Linked DNA regions of Homo sapiens: region 1 is linked to region 2. Evidence: fine-mapped expression QTL. Tissue or cell type: whole blood. Region 2 holds a variant in brackets; the other region holds the start of a gene. All regions are shown on one strand. Distances are between the middles of the regions.

Region 1 (5,636 bases), 73 kb after region 2:
GGCCAACATGGTTAAACCCTGTCTCTACTAAAAATACAAAAATTAGCCAGCTGTGGTGGTGCATGCCTGTAGTCCCAGCTATTTGGGAGGCTGAGGCAGGAGAATTGCTTGAACCCGGGAGGCGGAGGTTGCAGTGAGTTGAGATCATACCACTGCACTCCAGCCCGAGCGACAGAGTGAAACTCTGTTTCAACAACAACAACAACAACAAAAAAGTATAAACAGCTAAAAGAGACAGTTTTTGGTAAACCAGCACATTGATCACGCTCTGAATGGCCTTCAATGAACTGATTTAAAGAGCCTGTGAAACCCACCCAAGACTACAAAGCTAGTACGTAAAATGGTTGAAATTCAAACTCATATAGTCTGGGTCTAGAAGCTGAGTGTTTAGCCTCTAGGTGTAGAGGTGTCATCAAAGGAGGGGGAAGTAGGAAAGAAGGAAGGGTCAAAAGATGCAATGGAGAAAGGACACATTTCCAAGGGTCCCATCATAGAGTCTCTTCCTGGCTGCCTCTAGCCTCAGTTCCACAAGGTGGCAGGGCCTGCCTCCTTCTCCCCATCCAAATGCCTCTGGCTACATTCAAAGCCCAGCAGGGAGCAGTCATTGGTTTCCCCATCACACACAGTCTCAGGCTTGCCTACCAGAGGACATAATAAATATCTCCAGGTATGTAATTTTGCCCACAATAAAAACAACCTTTTTCAATATTGTGCAGGCATCTTAGTTTTTTATTGTGAATCTTCTCATTCCAGAATGCGATTTGGGATCTGCCTAGGAAAGTACATTTCCTGAAAGAAGACCAAATTTTCCTACAAAGAAGAGAAAACTCTTGGGAGATTTAAAATAACAATTTGTCCAGCCTGAACTCCCCTTTTCATGTTGGACCTGAGGAATACTGTAAACCAGGGTCAGCAAACTTTTTCTGTAAAGAATTAGATAATACATGTTTTAGGTTTTGTGGGCCCATTCAACCTGTCATGACTACTCAACTCTGCCACATAACTCTGCTATCGTATTGTGACAGAGTAAATATGTATGGGTATGCCCATGGATTCCAATGAAGCTTTATGGACACTGAAATATTAATTTCACAGGATTTTCATGTGTCAGGAAATTTTTGATTTCTTTCAACCACTTAAAAATGTAAAAACTATTCTTAGCTCTCAGGCCATACAAAAAACAACTGGCAGGCTGGGTTTGACTCCTCACAGCTTGCCAACCCCTGGTGGAAATCAACCCACTTAGAGGAAATCTGAAGGGTAGAAACAACTAAAAAATTGAAAATTCCTGTTAATGTTAGCAATGTCAAAAATCCAGGAGACCCCAGCTACTCAGGAGACCAAGGCAGGAAGATTGCTTGAGCCCAGGAGTTCCAGGCCAGCCTGGGCAACATAGAAGACCCCATCTCTAAAAAAAACAAAACAGAAAAAGAAAAATCCAGGAGCTTGTTTTGTTTTGTTTTTGTTTTGAGACAGAGTCTCGCTCTGTTGCCCAGGCTGGAGTGCAGCGGCGTGATCTCGGCTCACTGAAACCTCTGCCTCCCGGGTTCAAGCAATTATCCTGCCTCAGCCTCCTGAGTAGCTGGGATTACGGGCATGCACACCACGCCCGGCTAATTTTTGTATTTTCAGTAGAGACAGGGTTTCACCATGTTGGCCAGGCTGGTCTCCAACTCCTGACCTCAGGTGATCCGCCCACCTCGGCCTCCCAAAGTGCTGGGATTACAGGGGTGAGCCACCGCGCCCTGCCGAGGAGCTTAAGCGATCAGTTAGTCAAAGGGAGAAAAGAGGGTATCAGTAGATGACAGAAAAATTTTTTAGAGAACAAATTTTTAGACATCCGTCAACTTAGAGAAAGTAGAAAACTGTCTATAATAAACTGAAATATTTGGGACTGATCTTGATGTCTGCCAAGGTTTTGGCAGACATCAAGATCAGTCCCAAATATTTCAGTTTATTATAAACAAAGACTAATAAGTCGTCTCTACTATTGGAGGAAAAAAAAAAAAAAGACCGAAATGCAAAAATTCCTGAAAATGAGTAAATAGGGCAAAGATAAAATACTATAAATGTCTCTCTCAGTTCACAAGACCTTATCCTGGGCAGTCAACGTCCAGTTAGAAATAACGTCTGAAAATTCAGTAAGAGAAAAGGAAGTCTTCTTCTGTAATACTCAGTAAATAATGTTTAAAATTAACATAGCAATAATATTATCTGGGAATATGATAGTAAATAGCCCCTCCAAAAAACTGAAAAAGTTGAAAGCAGTTTTCCTGGAGACAGGAAGTGGTGAGGCAGATAAATTATGTTTTTCCTTATTGGTATATAACACTTTAAACTGTGTACATGTGTGACTTTAATAGAAGTGTTTAAAGATTAAATTTAAGAAAATAAAAAGTGTGAGCAAGAACTCCATTTCTATGGCAACCCGCGCGGCAGCCGCCTCTTTGTTCTGGAGCGGCGGCCACGCCCCCTCCAGTGTGAAAGGCTGCGTTTCCGGCCCGTGGGGCTCCAATCAAAATGGGACGCCTGCTGGCGGTAACGACAGGCCGGGGCCCCGCCCCCCGAAGTAGGGCGTGTGGCGTCACTTCCGGCTTCCTTCAGTCCGCTGGTCCCGAGCACGAGCTGTGAGGGGATTCACTTGTGTGCGGAACTCCTCGGAACCATGGTGAGCCTGACTCCCCTGCCTCTTGCCCTACCCCTGCTCCGCCGTGCTCTTGCCACCCCACTGCTTCCTCTGTCCTGCTAGGGTCGTAGGCTCCGTTTCTGTCTCCCCGGCCCTCCGCACATGGTGCGAGCCATGCGCGGGGCGTGCGGCCTGCGCCAGGCCAGCCGGTGGAGCTCACCACGAGGGGGAGGGGTGGACCGCAAAGCCAGCGTCTCCTTGTGCCTAGGTCTTTGCATAGTCCCGGCAGCCCAGGTCCGCGCCTCACCCGGAGCGAAGAAATTTCTAGTGTGGGACCCGCTCCGCCCTCCTTCTAGGGGCGGAGCCTGGAGCGACGGGGTCTGAGCCATCAGAGGGTGGAGGGGCCGCAGCCTTCCGAGGGTGGAAGATGGAGGCCGCGTTCCCTCGCCCGCCCGGCAGGCGTCACCTTGATGGCCTGCAACCCCTCCCTGCCTCATTCTTAGTTCAAGATCGTCTTTAGTCTCGCTGTACGTAACTGTCAATCTCGCTGGTGTATAATTTATACTCCCGGGGGCCTTGTAAATCCGAAAAGCCATGTCGCTCTCCTACAAGTCCCTCTCTCCCACTTAAATGCTTTCTCCGATGATGGAAGCTTCATTTGATTGAAAACATTGTTGTAAATGAGTTTTCTCTTAGATGTCCACTTGTAAGACTAGTGGAAGGCACCTCAGTGTATGTGTTAGAGTATTGGTACTTAAACGGAATGCCTCTTGGTTTTCCTTTTCAGGCGTCCCTTTCCCTTGCACCTGTTAACATCTTTAAGGCAGGAGCTGATGAAGAGAGAGCAGAGACAGCTCGTCTGGTAAGCCTTGTTCTAAGCATTGTTTTAAAGATAAAACTGGAGGCCAGGCGCGGTGGCTTACTCCTGTAATCCCAGTACTTTGGGAGGCCGAGGTAGGCGGATGAACTGAGGTCAGGAGTTCGAGACCAGCCTGGCCAACATGGTAAAACCCCGTTTCTACTAGAAATACAAAAATTAGCCGGGCGTGGTGATGGGCACCTGTAATCCCAGCTACTCGGGAGGCTGAGGCAGGAGGATCGCTTGAACCCAGGAGGCGGAGGTTGCAGTGAGCTGAGATCGCGCCATTGCACTCCAGCCTGGGCGACAGAGCGACACTCTGCCTCAAAAAAAAAAAAAAGTAAATAAAGATAAAACTGTACTTGAAGACTGTAAAGTTGATTCTGATAATCTCCTTGGTTTTTACTCCAGACTTCTTTTATTGGTGCCATCGCCATTGGAGACTTGGTAAAGAGCACCTTGGGACCCAAAGGCATGGTAAGAAAAATAGAAAAGTTTTATATTTTAATATTGTTTTAGAGCGCTTGGTGGAAATATAATAACAAGCGTATTAAAATGCTTTTTAATCTTTAAAACGTTTAATTATAAAAGACAAGTATGTTCTCCTTAGTAAAAATCAGAGTCCCCAGAATCACCATCCCCAATCCCATGCCCCTCCCCAATGACAAGTACTGTTATCATTTGCACGTACATCTTCTAATATTCTGTTTATGTAGAAGTATGTGTACTTCATTATGTATTTTATACTCATGTAACATACTGTTTTATAAAACAGATACTATTTATCAATACTTTTTTGTAGCTTGCTCTTTTAAATTCCTTTCAGTGTAAGTAGATAACACTGCCCCTTTAACTGTCAAATATTATCCTGTACCTTAATTATTTTATAATTTAATTATGGCTGTATTGATAGTTTCTTTCCATTGTTTTTGCAGTTACGGTGTTGAAACAAAAACTAGTGTCTACCTGTGCTTCTAGTGTTTCTAGGGGTAGATACATGGTTTGGTTACGTGGTGTATGTATTGAAAACATTTGATGAATGGATACCACAAAATAGCTATCCAGAGTGTTTATACACTAGCACTGTGTGAGAATACTGATTGATCCATGCATTCTTCAAGATGTGCTTATGTCTTAACTTGAACCAATTATGTTCCCTTTAGGACAAAATTCTTCTAAGCAGTGGACGAGATGCCTCTCTTATGGTAACCAATGATGGTGCCACTATTCTAAAAAACATTGGTGTTGACAATCCAGCAGCTAAAGTTTTAGTTGGTAAGTCTGAATATACTTTTTCACCAACCTAATAATACTGTTTGTTAACATTTTTGAAATAACTTTATAAATAGGCTGTGTTGACCAATCGTACTGTCAATTGATGTCCACTAGTTGTTAATTATCGTTGTTAAAATACAAGCTTCAGGAGTGCCCGTATGTTGGTGGTAAAACTGTTGCATTTCAGACCTCAGAGTTCCAAATAATTTGTTGAATGAGGAACCCTGGTAAGTTTAGATTGGTAGTGAATATTTTTGGAGAATTTAGTAAGCAAAGAAGCAATTTTGAGTTAATAACTAATTTCTTTTTCTAGATATGTCAAGGGTTCAAGATGATGAAGTTGGTGATGGCACTACCTCTGTTACCGTTTTAGCAGCAGAATTATTAAGGGTAAGAGCAACTAAGCAACTCTTTTTTCCTACTGTGTTTTTGAGTATCAGAGGTAATCTAGTCCTTACTTCCTCTGTCTTTACTATTGAGGAGTGCTTAATAATTTTCTATTTATAACTTTTGTTTTATAACTTTATTAATAGGAAGCAGAATCTTTAATTGCAAAAAAGATTCATCCACAGACCATCATAGCGGGTTGGAGAGAAGCCACGAAGGCTGCAAGAGAGGCGCTGTTGAGTTCTGCAGTTGATCATGGGTTTGTATAGCAAAGTACTACTGTTCTAAACATTTAGTGTTCTTTCATAACATGCTTAATGCAAGAAATCTATAGGACACTGAAAAGCATACACAAAGATCATCTTGCTGCCTCACCCCACTCCAACAGTCAAACCTACATCAGCCTCCAGAGATAGCCACTAAAGTTAAGTTTGGGTTTTTAGTCTTTTTGTATATATCATCAAAATATACAAATAAAGCAAATAGTAT
Region 2 (6,363 bases):
CTAGCTCTTGGCAACCATTATTCTACTTTCTGTCTTTATCAGCTTGCTTCCTGATGGCTTCTCCCTGTCAGGTTTAGGTTTCAACTTTCTTGGTCTTGATAGGTTATTCTTTTCCTTTTCTAGCTTCCAAAATGATGTTGATGACTCTCATTTGCTGTTGTGTCTTTCCCAATTCTCCTCATCCTTATGGGCTTTATACTTCTAAAAACTCCTATAACTTTTTAAAGCGAGGTCTCAGGAAGGGTCAGTCATGCTTTACATCCACCTTTCCCCTCCCAGCCCTCATTCCTTTGTTATTGTTTTTAAATTTAGGTTTATTTTATTAAGAATTTATTGGGAATTTACAGGTATGCCAAACAAAGGCAATTTTAACAGCCATGTTAGCTATAAAATTAAGTGTGATAAATGGACTTGTCACTGGCTTCTATTGTGTTTGTAGGGGTTTGATTCTGCAGATCTGTGGCAATCTCTAGCCCCCTCTTTCTCTCCCTAGCATACCTCATGTGGTGCCAGCTGTCCTAAGCCATATTCTGTGCTTCTGCTGCAGCACTTTTCATAGTGATAACCTGACCCATCTGTGGAGAATGATTTTGAGAGAGAAACTTATAGCCAGACACATTAAAAGTCTGTTATTCAAGTTACAATTGAGCTGTTTCCTTTCTGTGCAACTTCTCTGAGTGCCCTCGGTAGAGTTAATTACTCCTTCTGTGTCTTGACACTTGTGAATAATTCTATTTTATTCTGTCTCCGTTACATCTGTCTCTGTACGCTAGATATCTGTATTACAAGATCTGCCTCTTTCTTCCCTAAACTGTTTTCAAGGTTTGAAAAATACATATTCTGATACAGTTCTTGGCCCATGATAGATAATAAATAATTATTTACTAAATAAATAATCCATCCAAATTGATTGAACACCCTATTTTCTGGCAAGCGTATTGTCATTGTACCCTTTATCACTAATGTCCACTGAAAGCTGTGCCAGAAACTGTATTTGCTTTTGCTTGTTACTTGGAGTCAATAATGTGTAGTGATTAGGCGTGTGGCCAGAATGTCTTGGTTCAAAGAAACAAGCAAGTTTCTTTATCTTCTGTTTCTTTGCCTGTGAAATAGAGACAATAATAGCTAGCATGGAATGTGGTGAACATTAAATTAATACATCTAAAGTGCTAGCTCAATACCCTGCACATTGTCTTTATAGTGAATCTGTTTTTCATCTTTATGGGATACCTGCTATAATAACATTAGTACCTGTGAATAAAAATCAATGTAAAATGAAAAATCTAGTTAGTATTTAAAAGATTTAGCCCTTTGAAGCTCTTTGAACATGTTCTGAAATTATCTTCGTGGACAGTGTGCCATTTAGATAATAAACTGGGAGAAGTAGTATCTTTCAGTGTTACATACCTACTAAAATACTGTATTCTTTAAATATACTATAAGGTATCCAACTCTTTTAAACATATAGAGATACTTTGAATGGCAGTGCCAGTACTTGTGCTTTTTTTCTCCCTGAGGAGGGTTTTATGCAGCCCATCAGTAAATTTGATATTTGGCATCATTTGTCTTCTCATTTGAGAACCTGCAGGATTTAATTCTCCCCTCAGAGACTGTGTGCTAAGGGAAGGGAAACCTCCATCATTCATTAAGCAGTCAATGAATACTTGCTTATGTACTAGATGTTTTGGACACAAGGGAGAATAAGACACAGTTGTTTTCCTAAAGGGACCATCATCTCTTCATCATTTCAGTAGTAATAAAATCAAATGTTCCGGCTGAATGTGTGCACACTCTTTGACCCAGAATTCCATTGATAATGTTTTATAAATGGAATAAAAATGTACAGAAGTGTGTGTAGAAAGTGTTCATCAAACTGTTAATTATAAAAGCAATAAAAATATCAGTTTTAGTATATTCATTATATTTCCCACAGTTTCAATTAGAAACGTGATATTACTTAATTAAAATTTTGTTTTAAAAAAACTCTGAACTGGTGGATTTACATGGAGATGAATAGAGGATTAGGTCAGTCGTTGAGTTCTATGATCCATTACAAAGGAATGGTAAACTGCTCATATCCGTGTTAGGGCCCCCATTTCTTACTATATATACGACTGGCTAGTTGGTTATTGAAAATTCTGTAAATCTTGTTTCTTTTCTTCCATCTATAAAATGGGCACAGTGTTAGTAGTTATGAAGTTTGTTTTGAGGATTAAATGAACAATGTATGTAACCTAAAAACAAAAAATACCTCAGTAAATATTGGCTGCTCTTATTGTTCCTGTTTTTCTCTATACTCTTTATCTGTTTAATGAGTTTTCTCTGCAGCTTTTGTTCAGTCAGTCTCAACCAGGGATGACAGTGTTATATTTAATCTGACAGCTCCCATTGCTTTGTAACAGAGGTTTCTGAAGCCTTTGCCAGACTCCACAGAGCTGTCACCTGTTACCTGTGTCTGCCAATTTTGAAGGACGAGAAATAGCAGTACATGTGTCTTAGGTTTGCCTTCCTTGCTGTAAACCTTTTATCTCTTTATACACACCCTCCCTCCCTGTTCTCTTTTGGGTTTCATGTACTTTTTGATCTTGCACCTTATTTTAATAGGAGTCTGTTAGCTCATCTCTTTTTGGCGGGGGAGGGGAATATTTTGACTGTTACTGTTATTTCATAGCATAAATTACTCTTTATAACAGGGTAGTAATTCAGAGCTAGCCTTAGGACCTTTTTAGCTCTGCTTCTTCTAGGCTTCTCATAAAACACAAATATAGCTAGTTTGTAAGACTTATTTGTGCAAGCCTCATTTAAGAAAGAAGACCTGGATCTTGTATGAACTTTTTCCTTTTATTCCCTTGAGTAGAAAGCTCACACTACATTTAGTATAAGAATCAAATGCAGAAGAACTTTTTTCTAAGGGATTGTGGTATCTTTATAAGGTGAGTGGATTGTGACCAGAAAAGAATTTTTTTTGTTGAGTTGCATACACTTAAATTCATGGTGTTTAGGTATATGTTCTGAGGGCATGCAGTAAATAACAACTTGTATATTATAATTGATGGTTAAGAAATAGCCCTTGGCACATATGCAAAAATGATTTTACTTTATAACACATCCCGGGCATTACCTAGAAATGAAGTTATAGACACTATAAAAAGTTTTCACTTTCCTTGATGGCTTTTTCTGTACTGATGGGTCTAGAGTATTTATGAATTATCATAAATCAGAACGTTATGTTAAAAAGAATACAAACAGTTGAAATCACTTGCTTTGGATTTAGTATTTTCTTGTTATTTTAAATTCAGGAATCATGCCATATGGTATTCAGTTAACTTCATTTCAGTTAACTTTATTTTGAAGGGCAAAAGGAAGATGTCTTAATGACATCATTCAGCTAGGAATCAGAAGATAAGTTCCTTGGGTAAGTTGCTCAACTCTCAAGGCCTCAGCCACTTGTAAGGTGTAATGTAGCTCTAATGCATGAGCATGAACCTTGAAATTCTGTGACTTCTCCTCCCGCCCCCAAATCTCTGGCAAAGTTTGG[A/G]GTTTGTTTTTTTTTTTTGACCTTTTAATACATTGGATGTACATTAACAACAATATACCTTTCCAAATTCTTCTTTCTTTTTTCCTAAATTTTAATCTGAAAAGATTTGCTTTTTTAAACTCTCTTTTTTTTTAGGTTGGCAGTCAACAATCACCTTTTTAAAAACTATGCTTGATTTTGTTCATATATATATATTTTATTCATTAAAACATAGTTTCAACCCCATATGGTAACTGGCTCCTGAGAATAGGGAAACTAGTCCCCAAGCTTCAGCCTCCCCACAAACCTTGTATCAACATTTTTACTGATGAGTAATAAAATTAACAGATTTGAGCTGTAACATTCTGAACACTGGAAAAAGCATTACTGAACTGTAAAATAGACCTGCAGAGAAATCTGGCAGAGGAGGAGGAGTGTGCGTTAGCCTGTGACAATGAGGCACTGACTTACTATGCACTATTTTAACAGAGAATTGAATAGTTTTGCTATTTAGATATTTTACTGAGTTATTTTTTTAAACAAAAGAGGAATATATATGGTTTTCTGATAATAATTAAAAATTTTTTGACCTAAAAATGACCCTTGGGGGTGGGGCTCCTCAAGTGTAAAGCTCCTGCTGGGAAGAAAATTGTTGGGAATACATAGGTTGGTTTTAGGCATGGTGGAATCATTTGTTACCTCAATGAAAGCTACTCCTTGGATAGAGTTGTTTTCCTGTGATATCACTTCTCCTTGACAGTGTTCCTTTGAAATAAATCTAAATCTGCCTAGATATTTCTCACTTTCTAAATTAAGAAAATAATTATCTATAATTTATAAAAATAAAATTCGAAGTCTTCCCAGGATAAATCCATTGGTTAAAAGCAAACAATACTTTTTGAGTTTCTTTGGAGAGATGGAAAATTGCTTTTTTTTTTCTGTGTGGGTGAGGCAGGTGAGAATAGATTTCGCCCCTGCATGATGTCAATCAGAATTTTTGGTTAGTAAAAACCAAATCAAATATGTTTTAAAAGGAAATTGGGTAGAGCTCAGTGGCTTATCAAATTGTTGTGAGGGTTGGAGAACCAGATTCAGGGCTAAGCAACCAGAAACAATGCTCCAAATCACATTGCATAATTCCCATGAGGATGCCAGTACCATCTAGAGACAGACGGATGGATGCCACAACCTGTCCCAGCAACACTGCTGGCTCTGGATGACTCTAAATGCTGCCACCTCTGCCCCAGACTTGACCTTGCTGAAACTGCTCCACCATTAGTGTGAGAATGAGCTCCTTCTGCTCTCTGCTTCTGCTCACTAATTCGCTACTCTGGGATGCACATGTGTGTTTGGCAAAACATGTATCCTAGATGTATGGGACATGTGGGAAAGTGTTTAACCTTCTGCAATTATAAGACGGGAGGATGGCCAGATGCAGTGGCTCATGCCTTTAATCCCAGCACTTTAGGAGGCTGAGGTGGGTGGATCACCTGAGGTCAGGAGTTCTAGACCAGCCTGGCCAACATGGCGAAACCCCATCTCTACTAAAAATACAACACTTAGCCAAGCGTGTTGGTGTGTGCCTGTAATCCCAGCTACCTAGGAGGCTGAGGCAGGAGAATCATTTGAACCTGGGAGGCGGAGGTTGCAGTGAGCTAAATCACACCACTGCACTCCAGCCTGGGCAACAGAGTGGGACTGTGTCTCAAAAAAAAAAAAAGATGGGTGGAGTTCTCAAGAACTCCAAGCTGTAGAACCAGTGTTTTACCTTCTGAAATCATATGGCAGGAGAAGTTCAAGCAGACAAAAAGAATAATAGATGTTCACTGCACCTGATGTTTCAGATAAAATGTGAAGCCCTCAATATGTGCCACCATGCTAAATGTTATACAAGAATTATCTGTGTCATCCTCACAACAAACTTGTTAGTTTCATTTTAGAGATTAAAAGATAGACCAAGAGCAGGTAACCTGCCCAAGATTGTACAGTTAGTGATAGCAGTGTTGGGATATAAATTCAGAGCTATGACTCCAAAGCCAGTGCTAACTACTTAATTAAACTGACTTTTAATGTCTTTTCTGTCCTGATGCATTTAGCTCAAAATTCTGTAAATGAATCTGTTAGATTGAACCTACTATGTTTATTAAGATTTTGTGTATGGCATGTTTATGTGTTTAGGTAGTTTAAGGAAAGCTGAAAGTTTCTGGCTTTAATTTTTTCTATTTTCAGCTGATGATTAAATAATTTCTTATTCTTTTTCTCACTTTGTGACTATTTTTATAATTCACTTTGCCTCAGACTACAACCTGATAAAATGCTTTGTTTCTGAATATCAGTGCTTAGAAATGAGTTACTGAGTGTGAGAGACAGGCTGACATAAAAGGAGAGGGGATATAGAGTGACCGAGACTGAGGGAGGAAGGGAAAAACATCCCTCGCGCTCTCTTGCTGTCTCTCTCTCTCACACACATACACATACTCACACCCACTCCTCGAGAGGGAGAAACAAAGACAAATACATGTGGAAGAGAGGGTATGCACACACATTACCCTGAAAGCAACATTTTTAATCTTTTGTTCCCTCTAATGGTGGGTTGAAAAACAATTAAAATTTTCCCTTTCTGTATCAGGAAAGTCATTGAGGTCTTTTTTTTTTTTTTTAAGTTTGAATCTGTGCTTTCCCTAGAGTAAACAGTAGATCTTAAGCCTCTCTACCAGTTTACATTTTATATTGGTTTATGTATTTTTAGTTTGACCGCCCCACCCCCACCCCCACACACTGCAAAAGGTGTCATATCTAGGAGAAATAAACAAGAACTGTTATTTAACCCCGGGAAATATCCAGCT

Evidence for each region. PIP is the estimated chance that this variant, and not a neighbour inherited with it, causes the effect.
Region 1: CCT2 starts here. The variant in region 2 is fine-mapped to the expression of CCT2 in whole blood (INTERVAL, PIP above 0.99).

Annotation. Positions count from the first base shown.
Region 1 is chr12:69,582,857-69,588,492 of GRCh38, forward strand. CCT2 (chaperonin containing TCP1 subunit 2) reads left to right here and starts at 2,603. Exons shown (of 16, transcript NM_006431.3): 1 at 2,603-2,668; 2 at 3,414-3,488; 3 at 3,897-3,962; 4 at 4,649-4,760; 5 at 5,074-5,150; 6 at 5,294-5,406. The coding sequence starts at 2,666. MIR3913-1 (microRNA 3913-1) reads right to left here and starts at 1,967; the gene lies at 1,866-1,967. MIR3913-2 (microRNA 3913-2) reads left to right here and starts at 1,867; the gene lies at 1,867-1,966. RefSeq lists an enhancer at 2,634-2,973.
Region 2 is chr12:69,509,608-69,515,970 of GRCh38, forward strand. The region is part of intron 1 of FRS2 (fibroblast growth factor receptor substrate 2); the gene reads left to right. SNORA113 (small nucleolar RNA, H/ACA box 113) reads left to right here and starts at 5,833; the gene lies at 5,833-5,986. The variant A/G (reference allele first, on the strand shown) is at 3,539.